3 linked regions of the Homo sapiens genome follow. The protein of the gene in region 3 interacts with the protein of the main gene of each other region in a biochemical or structural test. Each region holds a gene or a part of one and is shown on either strand. Other genes may lie near its edges.

What was found.
Region 1: the proteins of GTF2E2 (region 3) and KLF5 form a complex in vitro, tested with the Homo sapiens proteins (one study listed by BioGRID).
Region 2: of the proteins of GTF2E2 (region 3) and CDK7, one has a biochemical effect on the other in vitro, tested with the Homo sapiens proteins (one study listed by BioGRID).

Annotation. Positions count from the first base shown.
Region 1 is NC_000013.11:73,068,975-73,076,007, reverse strand, and holds part of KLF5 (Krueppel-like factor 5), read right to left. Parts: intron 301-7,033; coding exon 122-300; 3' UTR 1-121. UniProt on the Homo sapiens protein: Transcription factor that binds to GC box promoter elements. Activates the transcription of these genes.
Region 2 is NC_000005.10:69,272,856-69,277,933, forward strand, and holds the end of CDK7 (cyclin-dependent kinase 7), read left to right. Parts: intron 1-36; coding exon 37-186; exon of another isoform or gene 187-583; coding exon of another isoform or gene 584-624; intron 625-3,687; coding exon 3,688-3,835; intron 3,836-4,251; coding exon 4,252-4,280; 3' UTR 4,281-4,575; downstream 4,576-5,078. UniProt on the Homo sapiens protein: Serine/threonine kinase involved in cell cycle control and in RNA polymerase II-mediated RNA transcription. Cyclin-dependent kinases (CDKs) are activated by the binding to a cyclin and mediate the progression through the cell cycle.
Region 3 is NC_000008.11:30,578,237-30,585,269, reverse strand, and holds the end of GTF2E2 (transcription initiation factor IIE subunit beta), read left to right. Parts: intron 1-111; coding exon of another isoform or gene 112-131; exon of another isoform or gene 132-845; intron 846-4,873; coding exon 4,874-4,989; intron 4,990-6,232; coding exon 6,233-6,349; 3' UTR 6,350-6,952; downstream 6,953-7,033. UniProt on the Homo sapiens protein: Recruits TFIIH to the initiation complex and stimulates the RNA polymerase II C-terminal domain kinase and DNA-dependent ATPase activities of TFIIH. Both TFIIH and TFIIE are required for promoter clearance by RNA polymerase.

The DNA of each region.
Region 1 (7,033 bases), on a different chromosome or scaffold from region 3:
ATTTCCAGTTTTAGTTGTGGTTTTCTTGCTTTTGTTTGTTTTTGTTGTTTTTACACAGGAATAGTTAGGTCTGTCATTTGAGGGAGCCCAGGGGACCTGGAACGGGTCACACGGGCAGTGCTCAGTTCTGGTGCCTCTTCATATGCAGGGCCAGGTGGTCAGAGCGCGAGAAGCTGCGGTTGCACACCCCGCACTGGAAGGGCTTGGCGCCTGTGTGCTTCCGGTAGTGGCGGGTCAGCTCATCCGATCGCGCGAACCTCCAGTCGCAGCCTTCCCAGGTACACTTGTATGGCTTTTCACCTGTGACAACGAACAAAGGAGGTAAAGCGGCCTGCTTGTAATGCAAACATCCTAGATAACACCGGAGAAGGAATTTCAAAGAAAAAAAAAATCTTGGCCAAGCGAAAGAAGGAAAGCTCATGAATTCCATTATGAGTAAATACATATCAAAGCCACTCAAAGTAAGCTAGTTAAGAGTTATTTCTTATAACCTCCAAGTATTTTTTACCTCATAAAGAAAAAAGCATTTTGTGTACCTTTGAACAACTGAAGAATAACAATTTTAGACAAGTACAAAACGAATCAGTGCCCTTATTTTTATGTACTCCTACACACATAAATCCAGGAAATGACTAGATGAGCCTGAGTGGCTTTATCATTATTGTGCAAATACAGTTTCTATACCAACAAACCCAAATTAAATTATTATAGGACTAATGGCTGTAAGGTGGGTGAGGGAGGAAAAAATTCAGAAGCTGTTGCACGAATCACCTATACATTGAATTTCATGTACCACAACTGCTTAACCAGAAACTGGTCCTAGATGTTTCTAAATTAGCCAGACAGAAGCTTGCAGCTCATCAATCAGTTCACTTGAAAACATGGCCTCCAAAATGGACTATTAGGGCATTCACTCTTTGAGAGTCACACACACCTTCACACACCTTCCTTTTGCAGATTGAAGCAAAATAGTCTGGTACTGATAACTTCACATTGGTAAAAAAAAAAGACCATGAAACAACTGTAAAAACTGACATTTGTTGACTTGTATTTAGTTTTTCTTTGTCATGTGTTACACCCAAAATTCATTCCATAAACAATTCGCCAAGCATCTATTATAGGCCAGGAACTGTCCCAAATACTTGTGATACAATGGCTAACAAAATAAAAACAGTTGGCCTCATGGAGCTTACATGTGTAATATACATCTAAAAGTCTGAAATTGTTCAACCTACCCATTCCATTCTTTCACAGTTCTCTTCCCTTGAGTATTGAGTTGGTATGTTCCTCCCTCCCATCCTGTAATGTATATTATTCCTAATGCTCCCCAAAGCTTGCCAGCTGTTTAACTTTCAAAACCACTAAATATTCATAATGTAGTCTTAATTCTCTGTTTGTGAAGAATCCTACTGGAGATCATATATTCCAGTAGGAATAAATGCCAAAACGTTCTTTCAGTGAGCATTAACTAGCAGTTCCTACATTTATGATTTTATAATTTTCTATGAATTTTTTATAAGAATTCGTGAGATAAATTTGTATATTAAAGTATTACTGGCTTACTGCTGAGTTTTATATAGATACTTTTTCACCTCTTAAATTCCCTTAAAAAAATGTTTCCTTCTGAAAGGGAGGAACCTCAGAGTTGCTTTGAACACTTGTTTAGTTCTGACGAAACAGAAACTGCACAACCTTTCTGCCTAATTTAGCAGTATCATGTTCAGGAAGTTGTAGGATTAACCAAGTCAGTCTAAACTTTAAAAGACCCTGTCCTCATCAACTGAGATTTCTACAATTTGTGGTTAATATATTTTTGTTGTCATGATAACCACTCTGACTCTCAGACAAAGAAGAAAGTGCCAAAACAGACGACATGAAAGTGGTCCCAATTTTTTTTCCCTTGAGAGTTCACCTACATTTCCCATGGTATGGATTGCTGTGCCATACTTCCTCTCTTCTCTCCTCTGCCTCTGACCCAGACAGTTTTTGTTTTAATTCCCTTTCTGGTTCCTATCAATCCACTTTAAAAATGAACATCTCAATTCTAGAAGTTTTTTCTCCCCTCATAGTAGATTCTAACCAGAAATTTAACCTAAGACACTCAAGCCATTTACAAAACAAAGTATAAATCACGTTCTGTCACTTACAATCACATAAAATGTCTGATATATAGAAATATTTTAACACCAGTAGTAAATATAGCTATCACATTTGTAGATGTAAATTGATCACAAAAAAAATTTTTGCACAGTACTATTAGTTTTTGTTCCCTGTGAAAAATAAACCACAGAAACAAACATATTGGTTAAATACTTTACTGTCATTTAATGGAAAGAAAAAGTTATTTCTGATGTCTGAGACAAGGAAAAAAATTCCTATAGTGCTCCCAATTTTAAAAGAAATCATTCTAGTCTTTTGAATTTAATAATTAAATAGCAGAACTGAATTTTCAGAGTTTATGTAAGAAACAAGGGACACTAGACTCTTTTTGTTCACTATTTTTATTGGCTATGAAGCAATAAACTGCACCAGTATTTTTTAAAGTTTACTTTACTGATTGCTTGAAATACGGTAGCCATTAAAGTTTCTAAAACATTTGGGGTTTTGCTCTCAATTTATGCACATCTATAGAGTATTCAGCCAAGAATACTACCAGTGTCTGGAATGTTAGTTACTGGGGCCAAGTCTTACCATAAAAGTAAGGACAACTATCCCCCCACTTGGGGCAGTTTCTATGGGATTTGTTCAAGTGTCAACACCGTTCAAGTAAAACATCGTAGAGGAAACTGGTACCCAATTTCTGGCCAAACAGCAGACTTGGGCCTTTCTTCCTCAGCCAGAAACACTATGCACAGTACTTCTGGGAAACCAAACTGACTTCCTTTAAGTTATATTTCAACAGGATAGAGCTTTCAAAAGTTTAATTGGATTTTTACAGAATCTCTTTCCAATACCACCAATTTAAAATATTTAGTTAAGCTCTTTCAACATCAACTGTATTTTTAAGTTCTCATGCTGTTAACGTGAAACTTTCCAAAGGCAAAAAGAAAAAAGTGACAAGTTTGTACAGCACAGAAAACAAGCTCCCACTTTATCTCAAAGTATGTGTTTTCTCATTCTGTTTTTAAATTACAGGAGTATTTTGCTAGAATCTCTAATCTTTGAAAACTATGTTCAAGTTAAACATGCATACTATCCACGCTGATAAAGTCATTAACATACTTTACAAAAATGTTAAGCAGAAACATTACCGGTAAAAGGAAAAGGGAGCAGGCACCAGCAGCCATGGAGCACATACTCCAGAGCGAGGTACTTCTCATTATCTCGCTTCCTCACAATAACCCCGTAGAGTTAGAAGCAAAACGATGAGCTCCACATTAAGAATCCTGGTCTGCCACTTTTCCTTAATGTCTCACTTAAATCTTCCATTAGCAAACACTAATACACTCTCTTTGAACGATTTAAGGAACACATACATATTGTTCAAATTCATTTCCAGATTCTAAAGCCACTTGCGAAGGTCAGCTAAGGAATGGCTTAATGGACTCACAGCAAGCCTTGAACCCCAGACGATCTGAAACAGAGAGCACAACCTGGCAGTGCCAGCCTCTGTGGGGCCTGTGGGGTCCTGAGCACTGTTCAGGTATTGCCAATTCCCAGGTATCACCTAACGATAGCTCCTTTCCCCCAGGGTAAGTGAATTTCAGTGGGTTAGTGGAACATGTTTGTAAGCCATTTTAAAAATCCTCAGCAACAAACTGAAAATTGTCCTTTTTTTTCCCCCCTCTGAATGACTTCTGAACCTATCACAATGGAATGGGAAGTTTCTCTGCTCTGCTGAACACATTCAATAGACATACCAAGGCCTTTCCCTAAAATGTTCTACATAGATTCTTCTAACAAAAGAATAAAAATCACTGATAAAATATTTATCTTAAAATAGTTATTTTAGATAATGTTTTAAAAGTTTATTGCAGCAAATTTACACATCGGTTTCCTTCCTGGTGACTAAAAGACAACTCAATCAATATCTGATAAAGCTAAAATATCATGAGAATTAAAGTCACTGTTTATTAGTGAAGGTGTAACCTGTACTAAATGCCTTGCAAAACTCAAATAAGACTTGGTTTCTGGCCTCAAAGAACTTAAAATCTTGTATCTTGTTCTGCGAACCTAAACAATCCAAACTTTTAAAGTAGAATAAATTATTTCAACCTAATCTAAACTCTTAGAACTTAAGAGTCCTTGAAGCTCAAAATGGGCTCTTATTTCAAGAGGAAAATATTTTCATGCAATTCAATAATAATTAGATTTTTCCCATCATTTGAGACTTACGAAATTTAGTCTCTGAAATAGGCTCATATTAGATTTGCTTCTAAAAATCAAAAGGGAGAAAAATAGGAAACACTTATTAAAGAAATTCATAGGAAAATGATTTAGATATCTAAGAAAAGAGATAAAGTAGGAGGATGATTTTAGCTCACTAATTCATATTTTTACGTCTATGCCAGTAATTTTCCATCAAAAACCTTTCTATTAAAACTCATTGTCACACATTTCCTATACTTGGAACAGAAGGTCCATATCAAAGATTAGTATTATTAGCATTTGTAAATGCATCTAATTATTTACCAGATAACACCATCAATATTGTGCCCATTCAACCTAAGGAAGCTGATTGCCAAAAACAAAAACAAAAGCAACAAAAGAGAAATTCCTTTCTCTCCTCAATTTATATTTATCACTTTCTTTAAAATCCGATACCTCACTCCTTCTAGAAAGCCTCTGAACAGACCAGGAGAGATCATTTCACTTCTCTGTATCCCCATCACTGAAATTTCTGTTGAGCTATCAATTTGCACTTGCACATATACTGCTTTAGGAAGGCTTCAAATAGTTGTATTTTGCCTCCTTAACTAGCTTTTAAAGTTCCTCAAGGGCAGAGACTATCTTCTATTCCTGCTGTAATGCCACACTTTCCCTAATGCATCTTGAAAACAACTCAGTTATTCTGATTAAAGAAAAGGAGGGAAGGCATAAAAGGTTCTTGTGAGGCTGTCAGCTTTTTATTCTTCTGTGGACCCTCCTGCAGCAGGGCTTTTGCCTGGCTTTGCCCTGCCCAGGACCACTGAGAGTAATCTGGTAATACGCATTTAGGTGAGAACCATGTTTTGAGCCACTTCCAGAGAAAATAATCGAATGAGTTATTGTCCATTCTGAAGTTATACAGGGATAAACTCTGTTTAAACAAATTGTCTTAGGTAGAACTGGACTGGACTTCAGGAAAGCCAAGACATACTAGAGCCCCTAGCACTGGTCAAAGGCAGCGAGGGGACTTCTCCCAGGGCCAGAAAGCACTGATCTGCCAAACCCAGAGAGGGAATGGGTGGGATCACGATGTCAGGGGTTACACTTACAGTCTACATCCTAGCAGAGATTTGGAATCTCTGGGCTCCTAAACTACTGCTACTTCTCCTCTGGGTTCCCAGTAAACATTATGAAGACTATCCCCTGTCATTAATAGAGTTAATGAAATCAAATACCAATTCTTCCGTCTCCTGATAACGAGACAACACTCGGATTCACTTTCTTATAATGGGAGTTCGCACTGACGTTAAAGTGTCAATGAGGAATTTCACCTTTTCTTTTTGTAAGCAAAACAGAAAAATCCTCTATTTTCATTTTTTCCCAGTATGGAATGAGTACTAGATAACCTTCCCTTTAATTTGCACTTCACATGGTGACCCTGACCAGTAGGTCTCCTCCCAACTCGTAAAGGTTTACCTTTTCATAAAGTAGCCAAAAATAAATTTATTCTTCTATATAGATATTTTTAGGTAAAAGTTACCTACTGTGCACTTCTAAAACTGTAACTTATCCTTAATAAGAGTTGTTGTTTGAGATCCTTGAATATAAATAATACTGGCTAACAGACTAGGAATGCTGCTACGGAGATACTTTTACTAAAGTAGGACATTATTTCTAATCTTTCACTAGAAACGATGTAGGCCATCAAGTAAACAGCTACTACATTCTATAGAACCAAAAATATCTGCCAAATTCTTGGGTGACTGTATTATTATTTTTTAAAAACATTACTCTCTACTTTCAAGACTAATTATTTCTATCTCCACTCCAGCAATTCTATTTAGTCTATGAACAAAAGGGCAAGAAGAGATTATTCATCTTTGGATTCTCCACAAAACCAGTAAAAAATATTTGCTGAATCAAATTATACTTAACTTTTGATAAGCTTTATCATCTCTAAACAATGTTTAATCAATTTCCTATGTAAATGTTTCTCAGAAGAAAGAACAAGTCCTAGAAGCAAAGTTTAATCTTCCCAGTGAGTCATTAAAAAGAAATTGCTTCTAAGCTTTCATGCTCATAAATACCTTTCCTGGGGTCTGAACCAGCAAGTCTCTTAAGCTACTACTTTAAAAAAAAATTGTTTGAAATTATCAATACACAAAATAAATTTCAAAGCTGCAAATGAAAAAAAAATGGAAAAGAATGAAAAGAATGTTTAATAAAATCTAATACTAAAGGCTAATAAATGTGATACTTCCTCTGCAATAGTTTTCAAATAGAGACTCAAAAAACCACTGAGTCCTAAATCTCTTCCTGCAAAAAAGATTTTGCCTGTGTTATCTCTACCAATAAAACAGGTTACACATTTAACCACTATTATTTCTCGATTCACATTGTAAGATCTCCATCCATTAAGGCCCAGAGTGAAAACCTTTGTATACAGTTTTCCTAAAAAGCCTTTTACCCTTTTCCCACAGTTCCACAAAAAGAAGAGTAACTTATGTTCAGAACACTGAATGTTGCTTTTAGTAAGTACCTGCAATGAAAATATCTTTATTGTCAATATTATCGATTTTTTATTTTTTATTATTATTATTTTTTCAGATGGAGTCTTGCTCTGTTGTCCGGGCTGGAGTGTGGTGGCATGATCTTGGCTCACCACAACCTCTGCCTCCCAGGTTCAAGCAATTCTCCTGCATCAGGCTCCCAAGTAGCTGGGACT
Region 2 (5,078 bases), on a different chromosome or scaffold from region 3:
AATCCTTAAGTTTGAATTACAAAATTATTTTTACAGGACATGTGTAGTCTTCCAGATTATGTGACATTTAAGAGTTTCCCTGGAATACCTTTGCATCACATCTTCAGTGCAGCAGGAGACGACTTACTAGATCTCATACAAGGCTTATTCTTATTTAATCCATGTGCTCGAATTACGGCCACACAGGTATTTTGGTGTATCTTTTTTATACTAGGAAATATAAAAATAATCTTAACTGTAGCATTGATAAAAATAGAATTTCATAAAATTAACATTTTTTAAATACTGGAAAGATGTGTTTTTGTTTTAAGAAATAACAAACTTTGTATCTTTTCCCCAAACTACAAACACTATTAAGACTGAGATTAAATTATATGCACACAGAGATACAGGAGAGTTTACACTTATTACACTTGCTTAGGGACATTTAAATACATGTCTATTTCACATAATTGGCTTGTAAATACTTTACTTAGAAAAAGAAAACCAAGGCTTTTTATTTGTTAAGAAACTGGTATATTTCAGTTGAGCTCTTACAAATTCATTTAAATCTTGTAGCAATGCTGAAAGTAGTTTGTTCGGCTTATTTTTTCTTTCCTATATAATGCAATCCAGGTATGCATGCTGATCATTCTCACATTGAGAACATGGTAATGGGGAGGAAATGGTATAGTCAGATATAATTGTATGCTTACAAAAGCTTGAAAAATATTTGAAATAAAACAAAAACTGAAACTAACTGCTGTTTAAAGGAAATAACAAACTCATGAAAAATTTGGAAGACCTAGAATAACTTAGGGCAGAGCACTGTACAACACAGTGCAGTGATTTTACCTCATGAAGGGAGAGACTAATGAAAGTGAGATCACAGGTCTTTATGGAAACATATTAATGTACAGTAATATTAAGCATACAAAATAGATTTTTTTCTCTTTAGGTTTGTTCCAGGCTACAAAATCATTGTTTAATGCACTTGCTTGTATAAGCCTTCTCTTTTTAGCAATGTGTGCTATGTGAATATATATGGAGATGGATGGATGGATGGAAGGATAGATAGATATAGATGGATAGGTAGGTAGGTATATGCTGGGTATTTACCATTAGAATTATTCTCCTAATTTCTTTTTTAAAAAATTTTTCTTTATTATTTTTATGTCCATGTGTACACATACTCTTTTAATTTCAAACAAGTAATTTGTTGCCTTTTCACTCATACTTCTATGTATATTATTTCCATCATAATAAACTTGAGACCACATTTAATTATCTAGAAAGTTGTTTTCATTGGTAGTATAGTTTGAAACTTAACAGAAAAATACTAGTTGTTGTATTTGGGTTGTATTTTAATAGAATGAAGTTTTTAAAGTGAGTTTTGTTTCATGGATGTCTTTATTAAAGTTGGAATGAGGTATTTTCTTAGATCTTTAGCCCAGAATTAGCCTAATTTGCATATAGAACTGCTGTGATTTAGAAGTAATGCTTTAAAAATGCAGCTGTAGGCCGGTGCATCGGCTCACACCTGTAATCCCAGCACTTTGGGAGGTGAAGGAGCAAGGATAGCTTGAGCCCAGGAGTTGGAGCCCAGCCTGGGCAACATGACAAAACATCATCTCTACAAAAAGTAAATAAATAAAAAATGAAAATGCAACTGTTGAAGTAAGGAATCTCTAAATTACTGCAAATAATATTGGGAGTGGTGAGGAATGCTTGCAAAGTTTATATGGGCTTCATCTTTCTTAAAGGATTATCCTAAAGGAAGTATTTATTTATTTATTTTTGAGACGAAGTCTTGCTCTGTCACCCAGGCTGGAGTGCAGTGGCACGATCTTGACTCACTGCAACCTCTACCTCCCAGGTACAAGCGATTCTCCTGTCTCAGCCTCCCTAGTAGCTGGGATTACAGGTGCACACCACCATGCCTGGCTAATTTTTGGATTTTTAGTAGAGACAGGGTTTCACCATGTTATCGAGGCTGATCTCGAACTCCTGACCTCAGGTGATCCATCTGCCTCGGCCTCCCAAAGTGCTGGGATTACAGGCATGAGCCACCCCGCCCTGCCAGAAGTATTTTAAATCATTGTAGCCACTGGACAGCACTATGCTGCTGATGTAAATAGACAAGCATGTGAACCCGGGAGGTGGAGGTTGCAGTGAGCCAAGATTGTGCCACTGCACTCCAGCCTGGGCAACAGGGTGAGACTCTGTATCCAAAAAAAAAAAAAAAGACAAGCATGACCTGACAAACTTGTCATTTAGGATATAATTATTTTTATCAGAATTGTGGACCCAAGTCAAGAAAATGTATTGTATCTACAGCACTATAGTAGGGGGAAAAAAAGAGAAAATGTATTATAGAACATTGGCCTGGTAATTAATAGAAATAATCTTGGAGAAGCCCTTCCAAGTAAAATTTCTGTCCATTTGCAATGGATTGTTGAATTAGAATCCATTGGTTCCAACCTACTGTATTTTTTAAAAAGCCTTATTTTTTAAGAATTTATATTTTACATGACTTGGAATTTGAATATATATGGATAGTGTGGCCAACTTGTAAGTTCTTTTTAAGTTTCTCTCTTTGCATTTTGAACTGTAGAGTTCAATATGTAGAGAATGGAAATGTACAATATTTCACTAAGGATAGCTCATAATTAGTATAGGTTGAGCATCCTTAATCCAAATATCCGAAATCTGAAATGCTCCAAAATCCAAAGCTTTTTGAATGATGACGTGATGCCACAAGTGGAAAATTCTACACATAAGGACATTAACAAAACTTTGTTTTATGTACAAAATTAAAAATTTTGTCAAATTAAAAATATTTTATAAAATTACCTTCAGCCAGGCGCGGTGGCTCACGCCTGTAATCCTAGCTCTTAGGGAGGCGGAGGCGGGAGGATAGCTTGAGCCCAGGAGTTCAAGACAAGCCTGGCCAATATAGCAAGACCCCATTCTCCACAAAAAATAAGTGTAAAATTACCTTCAGTTTATATGTATAAGCTGTATATGAAACATAAGTTTCATTTTTAATCTTGGCTTCCATCCCCAAGGTACGTCATGTATATGCAAATATTCCACAGTCCAAAATCTGAAGCACTTCTGGTCCCAAGCATTTTAGATAAGATATATTCAGCCTGTATAGGCTATTTAATTATGGAAAAATTAGAAGGGAGTCTTTTTTTCTTTTCTTTTTTTGATACGGAGCCTTGCTCTGTCGCCCAGGCTGGAGTGCAGTGGTGCGATCTCGGCTCACTGCAACCTCTGCCTCTGGGTTCAAGCGATTCTCCTACCTCAGCCTCCCGAGTAGTGGGGACTACAGACATGCACCACCACGCCCAGCTTATTTTTGTATTTTTAGTAGAGATGGAGTTTCGCCACGTTGGCCAAGCTGATCTCGAACTTCTGACCTCATGTGATCCACCCGCCTCAGCCTCCCAAGGTGCTGGGATTACAGGCATGAGCTACTGTGCCCGGCCAGTCTTTTAATGGAATTATCAGCCAATCTTAGGATCCTAGGTATTTATTTGTAGTAATTTCCATTTGCAAATACTTGACATTAATTTTGTTTTGTTGGGAATGAGGGCATTCACATAGTATTTTTAATGCTCCCTATAATCTTGAAGGTAAGATTTTCCTTAACACATTTCAGATACTCACCTACCTTACTTTTGGTATCTTTTCTTTTAAAAGGCACTGAAAATGAAGTATTTCAGTAATCGGCCAGGGCCAACACCTGGATGTCAGCTGCCAAGACCAAACTGTCCAGTGGAAACCTTAAAGGAGCAATCAAATCCAGCTTTGGCAATAAAAAGGAAAAGAACAGAGGCCTTAGAACAAGGTAAGATTCCCACTTTTAAAAGAAATTAAATGAATTTAGAAAACTCCAAATAGCTCGTGTATGGCTAGCGACTGAACAACAGCAAAGAAATGTAGCTTGCTAGCTATTTAATTTTTATAAATTTAATTGTATAAAGTAGAGAGACTGTGCCGTTTTAGGTATGTTTACTTTCATTGTGAATACTTCGGCAGCTTTTGTGTATACCTCAGAATTATGGGAACTATGTATGTGTACCTTGTTCCCTTCATAAATTCCTTCTGTAAACTACATGCTAAATGTTTAACAAGTGCTACTGGAAAAAATGTGTCAGTGAAATAATGTAGTTGGAATGCAGTGACTGGTTAAAATTGCTATGAGAATGTGAACTTTGTTAAATGTGAACAACTTTTTTTTTTCTTGTTCTTTTTGCTTCCTAGGAGGATTGCCCAAGAAACTAATTTTTTAAAGAGAACACTGGACAACATTTTACTACTGAGGGAAATAGCCAAAAAGGCAAATAATGGAAAAATAGTAAACATTAAGTAAATGCTGTAGAAGTGAGTTTGTAAATATTCTACACATGTAAAATATGTAAAACTATGGGTTATTTTTATTAAATGTATTTTAAAATAAAAATTTAATTCTGGTTTTTCTGATTAGAGTGCAAAAGTGAGAAAAGTTCAATACTCTTGAAATGTAGAATTGAAAATGCATTAGGGAAAACTTAATAAAAATTATTACCAGTTATTTGGAAGATCTGACCCATATAGTATCACAAATCTGTAGTAGCATGGGTAGTGTTTAAAAATAAAAATGTTGGCCGGGCGCGGTGGCTCACGCCTGTATTCCCAGCACTTTGGGAGGCCGAGGCGGGCGGATCACAGGTCAGGAGATCGAGACCATCCTGGCTAACACGGTGAAACCCCGTCTCTACTAAAAATACAAAAAAAATTAGCTGGGCGTGGTGGTGGGCGCCTGTAGTCCCAGCTACTCAGGAGGCTGAGGCAGGAGAATGGCGAGAACCCGGGAGGCAGAGCTTGCAGTGAGCCAAGATGGCGCCACTGTACTCCAGCCTGGGTGACAGGGCAAGACACAGTCTCAAAAAAAAAAAAAATGTAGTAGTGGTGTAGTAAATACTACCCAAACTTAACAAATATTAATATACGGAATGTACTAAAAAAAGAAAACATTACAGATAAAATTGAGATTCCCCCCAACCTTTTTTCTGAGGCGGGGGACAAAGTCTCACTCTGTCACTCAGGTT
Region 3 (7,033 bases):
TTTCGGTGCTTTATTAACTCCTCTAATCCTCACTATTCTATGAGGCAGGTATTATTATTACTATTATCGTTATTATTATTATTGAGACGGAGTTTCGCTCTTGTTGCCCAGGCTGGAGTGCAATGGCGTGATCTCGGCTCACCGCAACCTCTGCCTTCCGGACTCAAGCGATTCTCCTTCCTCAGCCTCCCAAGTAGCTGGGACTACAGGCATGTGCCACCACGCCTGGCTAATTTTGTATTTTTAATAGAGATGGGGTTTCTCCATGTTGGTCAGGCTGGTCTCGAACTCCCGACCTCAGGTGATCCGCCTGCCTTGGCCTCCTAAAGTGCTTGGATTACAGAGCCACCACGCTCGGCGAGGCAGGTATTATTATTATCCTCACTTTACAGATGAAGAAATGGAGGCAGAAAAATTAAGATGTTTGCACCACTTTGTGCAGGAAATGTGGTAACTGAGGTCACAGCCAGGCCATCTGGCTCTGAGGCCTGCACCACACTGTTGTGCTACTTTTGCATTTACGGGAAAGGGCTAAGCACAGACAAAATGTGAGTGCGTTATTTGGGAATTTTAAGCAAAGCCTCATTGGTAAGTTGGCTCATTTTCTTCCCTTCTATGGCAGTTACACAGTTTTTTATTCTTAACTCATGTGGGACAAGGAAGGGTCTTTTGAAATGAAAGGATCAAATCTGAGCTTTTAAATTCTAGTCTGTTTTCTCCTCTTTTCTGCTAAGAGAGTAGATTTCTAAATCAGTTCTGATTTTATTTACCCTTACGGTTTAGAGTGTGCCTGACTTTCATGATACTTGGCTGTCTTCTGCCATAATAAAGTGTCTGCCTTTAAATTTGATGTCCCTTGATCATTTTGTTTTCAAAAAAGAGATTGCTATTTTTAAAAACCCAAAATATGTAGATCTTGGTTTTTAAATACCATTCTATAATAAAACAAGTCAGGAATCCTTGAAGAAATCATTGATTCCAAATGAGGGGAAATACAAGATGAGCCTGGAACATCTTTTAGTACCGCCAGAAAGTGAGAGAAAGAAGAAAAACTGGAGGAAAAAAAAAAAAAGGGAAGCAAGTCAGGGACATAGGAACCAACATGAAGGAAATCTTAGTGATTAGAGCTGGGATGTTTGAACCACAAAATAAATACTGATCGTCGGCTGGGCACGGTGGCTCACGCCTGTAATCCCAGCACTTTGGGAGGCTGAGGCGGGCAGATCACAAGATCAGGAGATCGAGACCATCCTGGATAACACGGTGAAACCCTGTCTCTACTAAAAAATACAAAAAGTTAACTGGGCGTGGTGGCTGGCGCCTGTAGTCCCAGCTACTCGGGAGGCTGAGACAGGAGAATGGCGTGAACCCGGGAGGTGGAGCTTGCAGTGAGCCGAGATCGCACCACTGCACTCCAGCCTGGGTGACAGTGCGAGACTCCATCTCAAAATAAATAAAATAAATAAATAAAATAAATAAATAAATAAATACTGATCGTCATGGATTATCTGTGTAATAAATATGTAGATATAAATCTGTACAGTAATATCCATGAGTCTGCTAAATTAAATAATTGAAAAACAAGTTGGAGGTTGGGCACAGTGGCTCAGGCTGGTAATCCCAGTACTTTGGGAGGCCAAGGCAGGTGGATCGCTTGAGTCTAGACGTTCGAGACCAGCCTTGGCAACATGATGAAACCCTGTCTCTACTAAAAATACAAAAGTTAGCCTGGTGTGGTGGTATGTGCCTGTAGTCCCAGCCACTTGGGAGGCTGAGGGAGGAAGATTGATTGAGCCCAGGAAGTTGAGGCTTCAGTGAGCCAAGATTGTGCCACTGCACTCCAGCCTAGGTGACAAAGTGAGACCCTGTCTCAACAAACAAACAGTGAACTGAAGGAAGAGCAGCTCTTTGTGTTTTTTGTTATGTTTTGTTTTTTGAGATGGAGTCTCGCTGTGTTACCCAGGCTGGAGTACAGTGGCACAGTCTCAGCTCACTGCACCCTCCGCCTCCCAGGTTCAAGTGATTTTCCTGCCTCAGCCTTCTGAGTAGCTGGGATTACAGGTACCCACTGCCATGCCCAGCTAATTTTTGTATTTTTAGTAGAGACACAGTTTCACCATGTTGGCCAGGCTGGTCTTGAACTCCTGACCTTGAATGATCCACCCTCCTCGGCCTCCCAAAGTGCTGGGATTACAGGCATGAGCCACCGTGCCCAGCCTATTATAGTAGAATTCTAATTAGTACATATGGAAGGAATGATGGAAATAATTTGTCAGTAGTTACTTACAAGTAGTCATTTTTGTAGGTAAGCACTACCAATGGATGCTATTATAAAATTAGTGATAATATGAGAAACGGTATTTATATAGTCTGAAAATATCTCTCCATTAATTATTAACTACAAAGGAAAAACTGATAGCTTCATGACAGAGAAACCTGAGAGATAACACCTTGCCTGATGGTCAGCGTTTACCGGGTCCATGTTGACACTATGTAGCTTGCTACTGTGCCCCAAGAAGGGCACAAGCTCGTTACTGTGTTGTTCTTGCCAGAATTGCATAACCTCAATCTAGTAATGAGGAAATACTAGACAAACCCAAATGGAAGTTTCTGTAAAACAACTGACCAGTGGGGAAACAAAGACTGGCCACACTTAGAGAATGGAGGAGACCAAAGAGATGTGACAGGCAGGATCCTGGGCCAAGAAAAGAGCATCGGTGAAGTTGAAGTTTCACTTCAAACTTGTGAAGTTTCAGTAAGGCCTGTTGATGAATTAATAGTAATATGTCCATGTTAGTTTCAATAATTATACAGTTATGTAAGGTGTTAACATTAGGGGAAGCTGGATAAAGGGCATATAGGAACTCTGTGTACTCATTTTGTAACCCTTTTGTTAGTGTAAAATTATTTTTTAAAAGTCTAAAAAATGTAAAAAGAAAAATATAGGCCAGACATGGTGGCTCGACACCTGTAATCCCAGCACTTCGGGAGGCCAAGGCAGATGGATTGCCTGAGCTCAGGAGTTTGAGCCCAGCCTAGGCAACATGGTAAAACCTCATCTCTACACAACCCCCCACCCCCCCAGAAACAACTTAGCTGGGCATGGTGGTGTGTACCTTGGTCCCAGCTCCTCAGGAGGCTGAGGTGGGAGGATTGCTTAAGCCCAGGAGGTGGAGGTTACAGTGAGCTGAGATTGCGCCACTGCTTTCCAGTTTGGGCAACAGAACTAGACCCTGTCTCAAAAATAAATAAATTTTAAAAAAAGAAAACAGTCTGTCTTGTCTAGGGTGTAGTAGACAATGATGGTATTTCATACATTCGGTAGTCAAATCGTTGAAGTCTTGTCTAGGCTGTAGTAGACAGTGATGGTGTTTCATACATTCAGTAGTCAAATCACTGAGGACCTGTCATGTGCTAGGTACAGTGCCGACTGTCATGGAAACGAGATGGAAATACGCCGACTATCATGGAAACAAGATGGAAATAGAGCTCCCTGCTCTCAAGGAGCTTAGAGAGGCCGAGACAATCATGCACACAGTTGTTATCAGTTAGGTCATGTCCATAATGTGTGCAGATGAACGTTCAGTGGGTGTGTAGTAGAAAGAACCCCTAATGTATCTATGGAAATTAAAAAATCTTATTTAGAGACATTTTGGATTTAAATAACTTTATGCTCAGGTTGAATTCTTTGTAGTAGATTTTGCCACTTTTGCCATTGGTCACCTGCAATGAAAAGCTTCAGGGTAGGTGGCAGTAAACCGATTTCCATGGTATCACCAGAGTCCTGCCTATGTGGGCATCATTTGCTTTATGCAGCGTGTACTGAAATGAGAGAGAAAGGGGGAAGGAAGGAAAAGGGGAAAAGGAAAGAAATCTGGCCTAGCACAGTATCAGATGCCTACTTCATTTATCATTTGTAAACGGACCGTGGGAAGTTCTTGGCTCTGGAAGAAAAGGAGGGCGGCGCTGGGTGAGGGTCTGGGGTGGGAAGAAAGGAAGGGAAGGTGCATCCCCTCAGTGCGTGGGGCAGTTGTGAGTGTGAGGCTCTGTGAAGCCTCGGGGCTCAGAGAGCTTTTCCTTTTTTCGTTCCTGAGCGTGTAAGTCTTAGGATTTTGTGTCTGAAAGTAGCTTCTGATAATTAAGTGAAACCAGTGATCAGAACCTGTCTTCAGGAGCAGAATGTAAGATGTAAATAATGTTCATTTGGAATGCTTCCCAATTGTGGTCTCTCTTGGTTGCAAAAATAGTGATGTGGCAGAGGGACTACAGGTTTCTGAAGACAAGCTGCAGGCAGGACTGTCGCCTTTCTCCTTGTATTACAGAGAGGAGGTGAGACAGTGTTTCTATTTCAGCCATCCCCCCTTTCCCTTTCATGCCTCCTTAGTCACCAGTTACCAGGTTATTTGATTTCAAAAGTCTTTTTTGCAGATAAATTGTTGAATAACCTCATTTCCATGTGAAACTTCGGTTCCCGTCTCCCTACACGTTTCTTATTTTCTATTATCAATGAGAGAGGAATGAGTATATCATGCTTAGGGGAGCTGAGCAGGAAATAAGCTGTTAGCCCTAAATAGAGGAATTAAAGGAGGGTGTTGACGGCCCAGGAAAGCAGGGCGGCTTCATTGTGGCAGCCCTCATTTGCTGGCCTCAAGAAACAGCCCCACTGTCGGGGCTGTGTGGGTGCAGTTCTGTCTCCAGGCCTTTCCCTGCACCGTGTCCCACATGTGGATGTTCTGCCCTGACTTGTTTCATGATGACATATCAGATGTGCTCATTTGGATCCAGAGGAGATAACACTGAAACCTGGATTTTGATCAAGATGCTATAGTTTGTAAAAATGGATTGTAAAATAACTAGTGTCTGTTTGATACAGAATTTCAGAAACTGTGGAGGAGTGTCACTGTAGATTCCATGGACGAGGAGAAAATTGAAGAATATCTGAAGCGACAGGGTATTTCTTCCATGCAGGAATCTGGACCAAAGAAAGTGGTGCGTAATCTCTAGCAAAGCAGCTTAATCCCCTGCCCTGGGAACTGTTAGCCTGCTCCGCTTTCTGCCCTCTGAAGAGCTGGGAGTTGTTCCCCCGCCATTGTTTCTCAGTGTCCGCAGCCCAGGTCACATCTGAGGTATTGCAGGCCTGCAGACCCGCCCTCGGTGCTGCTCCAGGCCTGTGAGTGCCTTTCTACACCCAGCTCCTCCCAAGCAGTCCTGCTCTTGAGGTATAGCCATATGGAACCTTCCAGGGCCTGTGTGTTCCCCACTCTCCCACTCTAAGCTGCTACAAGCCCTTCTCCCTATTCTTAAAGGGATGCTGTGCCTTGATCTGCACAACCTTTCAGACTTGAACGGGGCCCTCCCCTGCTCCGTGAGCCTCGCCGTCCTGGTGCCTGGTTCTGCCATAGTAACTTTCAGGTCCTCTAGGAACCAGATATTTTTGTCCGTATAGTCTCTAAATCCTGCTCACAGGGGATGTTAGTAATTAAATGATGACTTTTACATTGCCTTGCACCAGCAAATAAAATCTGTAGTCTAAGAACAAAGCCCGGGGGGATGATTCACCAGCACCCTTGTTAGCAGTGCTGTGCTCCTCCCCCCTTTCCTTATCCACCGTCATGCTTCATAGCTTGTCACCTGTGTCTTTCTGGGGTGTGGGGTGGGCATGTGTGTTTGGTGAATTTTTAGGACTCACCTAAAGGGAAGCTTTATTGTCAATCTCTTTCCACAAATGAGTGTAATTGCAGCCCTTCATGATTTCCTATTATTGTCTCATTTGTTAATTTTTTTCATCATGTGATGCTAATATTTCAAGTATATAGAAAAGAATAGAGAATATTACAGACCTTCATGTGCTCCTCCTTTCTCAGGATTTTGCCATATTTTCTTCAGATCTTTTTAAAATCGGTAATGGTGGATACGTTTTTAAACCTGATGACAGAGACAGAGCTGAAGGGCTTCATCGTCCCTTTTGTTTGACTTAGTGCCTAGAACCATTTTGGCAGGTTTTTGTGCCTGCTCCTTCATTCCCGATGGCATCTGCATCTCAGGGGAACAAAGGCCCGGGGTCTGGTCAGGGCGTGTGCTGTGCCCCATGTGTGCTGCTGGGTGGCAGAGCAGGAGAAGGGTCCGAACCTGGCATCCTCAGCCACTGGCATCTGGGCATGCTCAGAACATCCTGGCCACACCACCCCTCAGAGCAGCTGTTGTTTCTAATTGTTTTTACCTTTTCCTTTAGGCCCCTATTCAGAGAAGGAAAAAGCCTGCTTCACAGAAAAAGCGACGCTTTAAGACTCATAACGAACACTTGGCTGGAGTGCTGAAGGATTACTCTGACATTACTTCCAGCAAATAGGGAACAGTTTTGCCCTGGAACAGAGTTACAGATACACAATCAAGAGTGTTCTTGCTGATGCTCGGGGTCTGAAGACTGTCTTCCTATCTGCTTCTTGCGGCTGAGGAGAGGAGCAGTTCAGTTTACAAAACAAGTGCAAATTACCAAACTCAAAGCTTATTTGAGTAGAATGGGCTCATGGGCAATGTGATGTTCCCTGTTAACCTTCTGTTACTCCCTGGGAGAAAGGCGCTGAGCGTGGCATGCAGGTGTCTTTGCTGTGTTTTTCTCCACTTCTAAATGGTTCCTGGTTCCTTTCTTCCTCGTTTGTTACTTTAGAGCAAGTTTGCCCATAGTCTTGAATGCAATATTTGTTTATTCCAAAAGAACATATTTATAATAAAATCACTGTAGAAGGATTTTTAAGATGTTAGTGAATTCTGTTTCTTTTCATTCTCGGAAATGGCAGGAAGCAGCTCCAGTCTCTGATTTCCATGGGTCACGTGCTGGGGATGTGATGAAGCCTGCAGTCTGCACTGTGTTGCTGAGCACATGGATTTCACCACTGGAACACAGGTGTGCTGCTTGTTAGCAAGCAGAGCAATAAAGATGTGCTGGATGTCATTGTTAATGTTTTCTTTTAAAAAGAAGCGTCAGTGTCAGCCGGGCAAGCTGGCTCACGCCTGTAATCCCAGCACTTTGGGA